Linked DNA regions of Homo sapiens: region 1 is linked to region 2. The links come from fine-mapping of genetic effects on gene expression. Tissue or cell type: whole blood. Region 2 holds a variant in brackets; the other region holds the start of a gene. All regions are shown on one strand. Distances are between the middles of the regions.

Evidence for each region. PIP is the estimated chance that this variant, and not a neighbour inherited with it, causes the effect.
Region 1: ELMO3 starts here. The variant in region 2 is fine-mapped to the expression of ELMO3 in whole blood (TOPMed, PIP above 0.99).

What each region holds. Positions count from the first base shown.
Region 1 is chr16:67,198,160-67,200,659 of GRCh38, reverse strand. ELMO3 (engulfment and cell motility 3) reads right to left here and starts at 1,529. Exons shown (of 20, transcript NM_024712.5): 1 at 1,256-1,529; 2 at 1,067-1,107; 3 at 904-976; 4 at 659-709; 5 at 299-468; 6 at 110-209; 7 at 1-3. The coding sequence starts at 1,333. It overlaps E2F4 (E2F transcription factor 4), which reads right to left. Exons shown (of 10, transcript NM_001950.4): 10 at 1,742-2,500. RefSeq lists a silencer at 2,134-2,193.
Region 2 is chr16:67,176,386-67,179,126 of GRCh38, reverse strand. It overlaps MATCAP1 (microtubule associated tyrosine carboxypeptidase 1), which reads left to right. Exons shown (of 7, transcript NM_001040715.2): 5 at 623-928; 6 at 1,020-1,117; 7 at 2,152-2,741. The coding sequence ends at 2,316. Among named protein-coding and RNA genes, the nearest start is that of MATCAP1, 6.2 kb to the left of the region's middle. RefSeq lists enhancers at 72-613, 614-1,157 and silencers at 503-662, 933-992, 2,740-2,741. The variant G/A (reference allele first, on the strand shown) is at 1,583.

The DNA.
Region 1 (2,500 bases), 22 kb before region 2:
CACCTGTAAGGGGCGGGGGTGTCACCACCTCACCCCCATGGAAGACCGGGTCTACCACTGCCCCACTGCTCCACTGCCCCCACCCGCTGCCCTAGGAAAGCCCACCCACCTTCCTCACAAAGGGGATGCTCAGAGTCTCCCAGGACACCACGCCGTGCTCCATGAGCTCTGAGAAGGCCCTCAGGCTGAGGGCCAGCACCTCTCCTAGGCTGGAGGGGGGACATCTGGGGCTGAGCAGGACCACCCCAGGACCAGAAAGACCCACCATCTCCCCCAGCCCACACATCCCTGTGCTCACTCGTCCCCATCTTCAATGATGGTGCCTAGTATCTGGAGCCCATTACGGCTGATGACCTCCCTGGCAAAGATCATGTCCGAGGCCAGCGGAACAAGGCGCCTCAGGGCTTCCCGGCGCCCTTCAGGACTGTTACTCTGCAGCCCACCCAAGAGCTGCTCAGCCTCAAGGTCCTGGCAGGAACGGAGCAGGAGCAGAGGTGAAGAGGCTGGGCATGGTAAGGGTGGGACCTGGAAGTGTGCGGCCCCGGGCGTCAACTAGGTGGCGCAAGGCAGGGCTGGGGCGGGGGCCTCCGGGGCGGGGGGCCTCTGGACCTGGAGCAAAGGGGCAGGGATGGGGAAGGCGGGACGGGAGGGGCATTACTGGGGCCGTGCTGAGGCACAGGATGCTGCCATTCTTGATCTCCGCGCGGTTCTGGAGAAGACAGCAGAAAAGGCAGCGAGGTCAGGGAGGGCTCCGAGGACTGATCAACTGGGGTGTCGGTGAGGGCGGCTGGGGGTGAATAACAGATCGCGCTCCGGTAGTGGGATGAAGAGCCAGAGTTATCGGGGCCAGGTGGGTTAGAGGGGTCGGAAGGCCGAGCTTGGGGCTGGGGAGAGGGGACTCACATTCTCGGTGATGTATCTCCGGTGCCCATCCGCAAACTGCAGGGCGTAACGCTCAGAGTGCGTCAGGCTCCACCTGAGGGGCACGAGGCTCAGCGAGGCCGGCAGGGGGCGCCGCCCCTCCTGCCCTCCCGCCCTCCGCAGGCCCTGGCCCGGCAGCACTCACGCGTCGCACACCTCCTTCAGCACAGCGGCCAGGGGCTTCGCCTGCAAGTGGAGTGGTCATTCTCGCGGCCTGGGCAGGGAGGGATGGGGAGGAGCCTGGGGGGAGGGGTGGGGCGGGCTGCCCCGAGGGCCAGGGGGCTACCGGGAGGTGGGGCAGTGGGGCAGATGGAGGCGGGACCAGCCGGGTGACCTGGTCCAGCTGGATGAGCTGCGGGATGGCGTCACGCATCTTGATGGCAATCTTCACCACGTTCCGCGGAGGCGCCATGGTCCAGCTGGGACGTGGGCGCCTGCACTTTCCGGAGACCGTGCACCTGCGGCCAAGGGTGCACCTGGCCTGGGGCCCCTGGGGACGAGGAGGTCCTCCCTTTCCGAGACCTGACCTCGGTGTCCCGCACTCGCGGCCCAGACTGCTGCTCCTGGCCATGCAACGCGGCCTTCCCAAGGGAGCCGAGGTTAGTTCCGGGTTGGAGTCTGGGGGTAGGAAGGTAGGACGGCTCCGCCTGCCCCGCCCCGCCGAGGCGGCCCCGCCCCACACCAAGGTGCGGCAGGTGGGGGCGGGGAGGGCAGGCTGCCGGAGGCCGCCCCACCCCTAGTTCCAGCAAGGTGACCCACCCAATCACACTGCCAGTCCAGCACAGTCCCAAGGAGGGTCCCCAAAGAACCACATCAGAGCTAGCCTTAGGCATGGTTTTTATTCACTTGAACACTGTACAAATATTACAATTTCCTTTTGCTGCAAAAAGTATAAAAATAATCTTTATATAGGAATCCATTCGTTACTGTAAATCTTTCTAAATCTCTGCAAATGGCTCTAAATGAGGGTAAATGAAAAAGCCGAAATGAAGAGAGGGTTATGGGGCAGCAGGAGGTGGGGCCAATCATCAGGGCTGGACCACCCAGACTCCTCCCCAGAGACCTCTGTTCCTTCTTGGTAGCCGCCCCCACCACCTGCAGGTTCTAGGGCTAAAGGCCCAGCAGAAGTGGGCACGTGAGAGGGCCAGGAGGAGCTGGAGGGTCAGGGGGTGGGGGATAGCGAAGGAAGCTAGAAGTGGTGCTGGCATGTGCCCAGTTCCACCCCACCCTTCCCTCCTAGGGGAAGGAGCTGGCAGAAGCAAGACACTGAGGCTGGCAGGAACAAGACACTGCCCCCTATGGGGGGTAATGGCAGCTCCTCGGTTCTGTGCCACTGGGTGGCAGCCGAGCCTGGGCTGGCGAAGGCCGCAGAAAGGGAGAAGCAAACACTTTGGCTCCACGGTGATGGGGGCTGAGTCCTGTTCCCCTGCTCTGCGAGCACAGAAGTGCCAGCACAGGAGCGGGAGCTGTGGCCAGAACTGTGCGGTGAGGGGAGGCCGGAGAAGCCAGGCGTCTGTGGCTCTCAAGCTCTGTAGGGGTCGGGTGGGAGAGGTCCCCAGGCAACCCCCAGGTCAGACAG
Region 2 (2,741 bases):
CAGAGAAAGAACCCTCAGGGTCCCACCAGGCCAGCCACCACGCTGGCCCTCCAGGGTGGATGGAAGGCCAGGTCCTGGGAATGGACTTGACTTGAGGACACATGGCACCTGGTTTAGGAGGGGACTGGCCAGTTTGGGCAGGGGGGTGCAGGGCACTAACCACTATTCCTATCTGTCTGTCCCTCTTCCTCGAGAATCCTGTTGCTCTGGGCAAGAGTGATTTTTACCGGGGGCATCAGCATGACTGTTCAAGATGATATGGGCACCCAGGATGTTGGGCAGGGTGGTATATGTATTCTTGTGCCCAGGAGGGCTGGGGGCAATGTCAGTTTGGGAGAGTTCGTGCACGTGTGTGGGTGCGTGGGTGTAGGGTGGGGGGCGGATGGGTGGGAGAGGATTCATGTATGTGAGCCTCTGTGGATCCTTGGGTGCGAGTCCACAGGAGGAGGAGCTTCACGCTGCCTGGGGCTGGGAGAGCCTGTGTGCGAGCCTGAGTTCAGGAGCATGAGGATGGAAGTGTCGCGGCCAGAGCCCCGGCCAGATGGAACAGGGCCAGGGCTGGGCTCGCAGGCGGGTCCCCGAACGCCCCGCCCAGCGCCGCCTCCCCTCGCCTTCCCCGCAGGCACCCACTACCTGCGGGGCGTGAACAACGCGCGCCAGCCGTGGCACAACGCGGAGGGCCGGCTGCGGTACGGGCTGCGGCCGGCGAACCCCACGGAGGAGGGCCTGGCCAGCCTGCACAGCGTGCTGTTCCGCAAGCAGCCGTTCCTGTGGCGCGCTGCACTGCTCTACTACACCATCCACCGCGCCGCGCGCATGTCCTTCCGTCAGCTCTTCCAGGACCTGGAGCGCTACGTGCAGGACGCCGATGTGCGCTGGGAGTACTGCGTGCGCGCCAAGCGCGGCCAGACCGACACCTCGCTGCCAGGTGTGCGCCAGCGCGGGGGAGGTGCCTAGAGCCGGGGTGGGGGCGGGGCTTCGGGCGAGGGGCGGGGCTCACCGCCCTCCTGCCCTCCCAGGTTGTTTCAGCAAGGACCAGGTGTACCTGGACGGCATCGTGCGCATTCTGCGACATCGCCAGACCATCGATTTCCCGTTGCTGACCTCACTGGGCAAGGTGAGGGGCTGTGGACCTTCAGAGGTCCCAGCCAGCTCCCTGCCTTGCTGTAGAATTCCCTGAGCCTCGGATTGGTGCTAGACCGAGGGCTGGGTGTCAGGCCTGTGGTGGTAGGGGGGAGCGTGGGTGGAAGTGAGAACAGGAGATGAAATGACTCTGGCAGCAAAACCAGGTGCTTAACGGAGGCTGCAGGTGTATGTAGATACTGCATCTCAAAGGAGATGAGCATTCCAGGCCAAGGGAGTGATCAGGAAGGCCAGGGGAAGAAGGCTGCAGAAATGGCCAGGGACCAACTCCCTGGCACTGGCATTTGTGCCAGGCCGAGGAAAGTAGATTTCATCTGAAGCAACGGGGAGTGAGAGGAGCTTTAAGCAGAGGAGTGACTCTGATATTTGCTTCAGAAGGCTCCTTCTGGACATCATATGGGAGGTGGATTGGAGAGAGGACTAGGGAAGGGAGTGCAGG[G/A]GCACGGAGGAGGCCTTGCCTGTCACTCCTGCAGAAGGGATGGTGGTCTGGCCTAACCAGGCAGTGGCCGCTGGGTTGGAGATGAAGGGACAAGCTGGAGAGCTCTTCAGAGAGGGGAATACTTTTAACTCAGCGGCTACCCTGATGGGAGGGTGAGAGTCCAAGCCCCCTCCCGGGAATCTGACCTGGGTGACTGTAAAGAGGGTGGAGCTGGCATAAGCTGGCACTCAGGAGTTGACTTTTGGACATGGGGCCATCCTGAGGGTTATCCAGGGGAAGACATTAAGGAGGCAGTTGGATGCCCATGTTTGGAGGTGAGGGTCTGAGAGGCTGGGCTGGAGAGAGAAGTGGGGTTGTAGGGCATCTATGACAAAAAGAAACTGTTGAGAGAAAGGGCAAAGATGAAGGATTGAGTCTAGAGGTATAAAACGTTGTAGCTAATTGTGGATCAGGAGGGGAGAGGAAGAAGTCCCGGAGCAAAGGCTGTGAGCTGTAAGCAGTGGGCTGGGACCAGCTACCTGAAAGCCAGGGGCCACTGCCTATGCCTGATGCCCGGCTTCCTCCTGCAGGTGTCCTATGAGGATGTGGACCACCTGCGGCCCCATGGGGTGCTGGATAATACCCGGGTGCCCCACTTCATGCAGGACTTGGCACGCTACCGGCAGCAGCTGGAGCACATCATGGCCACCAACCGGCTGGATGAGGCGGAGCTGGGTCGCCTGCTACCCGACTGATGTCCGTTGAGGGCTGCAGTCAGAGGCCCTGGACAGAAGCTCCAGATAGGCCCCTAGAACATGAAGCAGTTTGCTCTGTGCGTCCACGGCCTAGGTGTTTCTTGGGGGTGTTGGGAGGGCAGGAGCATTCCTTGAGGAGGAGTGGCAACATCAAAGTGTTTGTGTCCCTTGCCAGCCTCCCTGGGGTCTGGGGACCTGCAGCAGCATGTCTGGCAAACTGAGTCGCCCTCCTGCCTCCAGCTCTCTGTTGAGCAGAGGGAAGGCATGGGGGCAGGAAGAGAGCTGAGCATTGATGGGGATGGGGGTGGTTTGGGAATAGAAACTTGTTCTTGCATGAGATGGCTTTGGTTGTCCCAGTACTCCAGTCTCTCCCTTCCCTTACCTGGCCCCTTGGTGCTCCTTCAGCATTTGTGCTGTCTACCTCT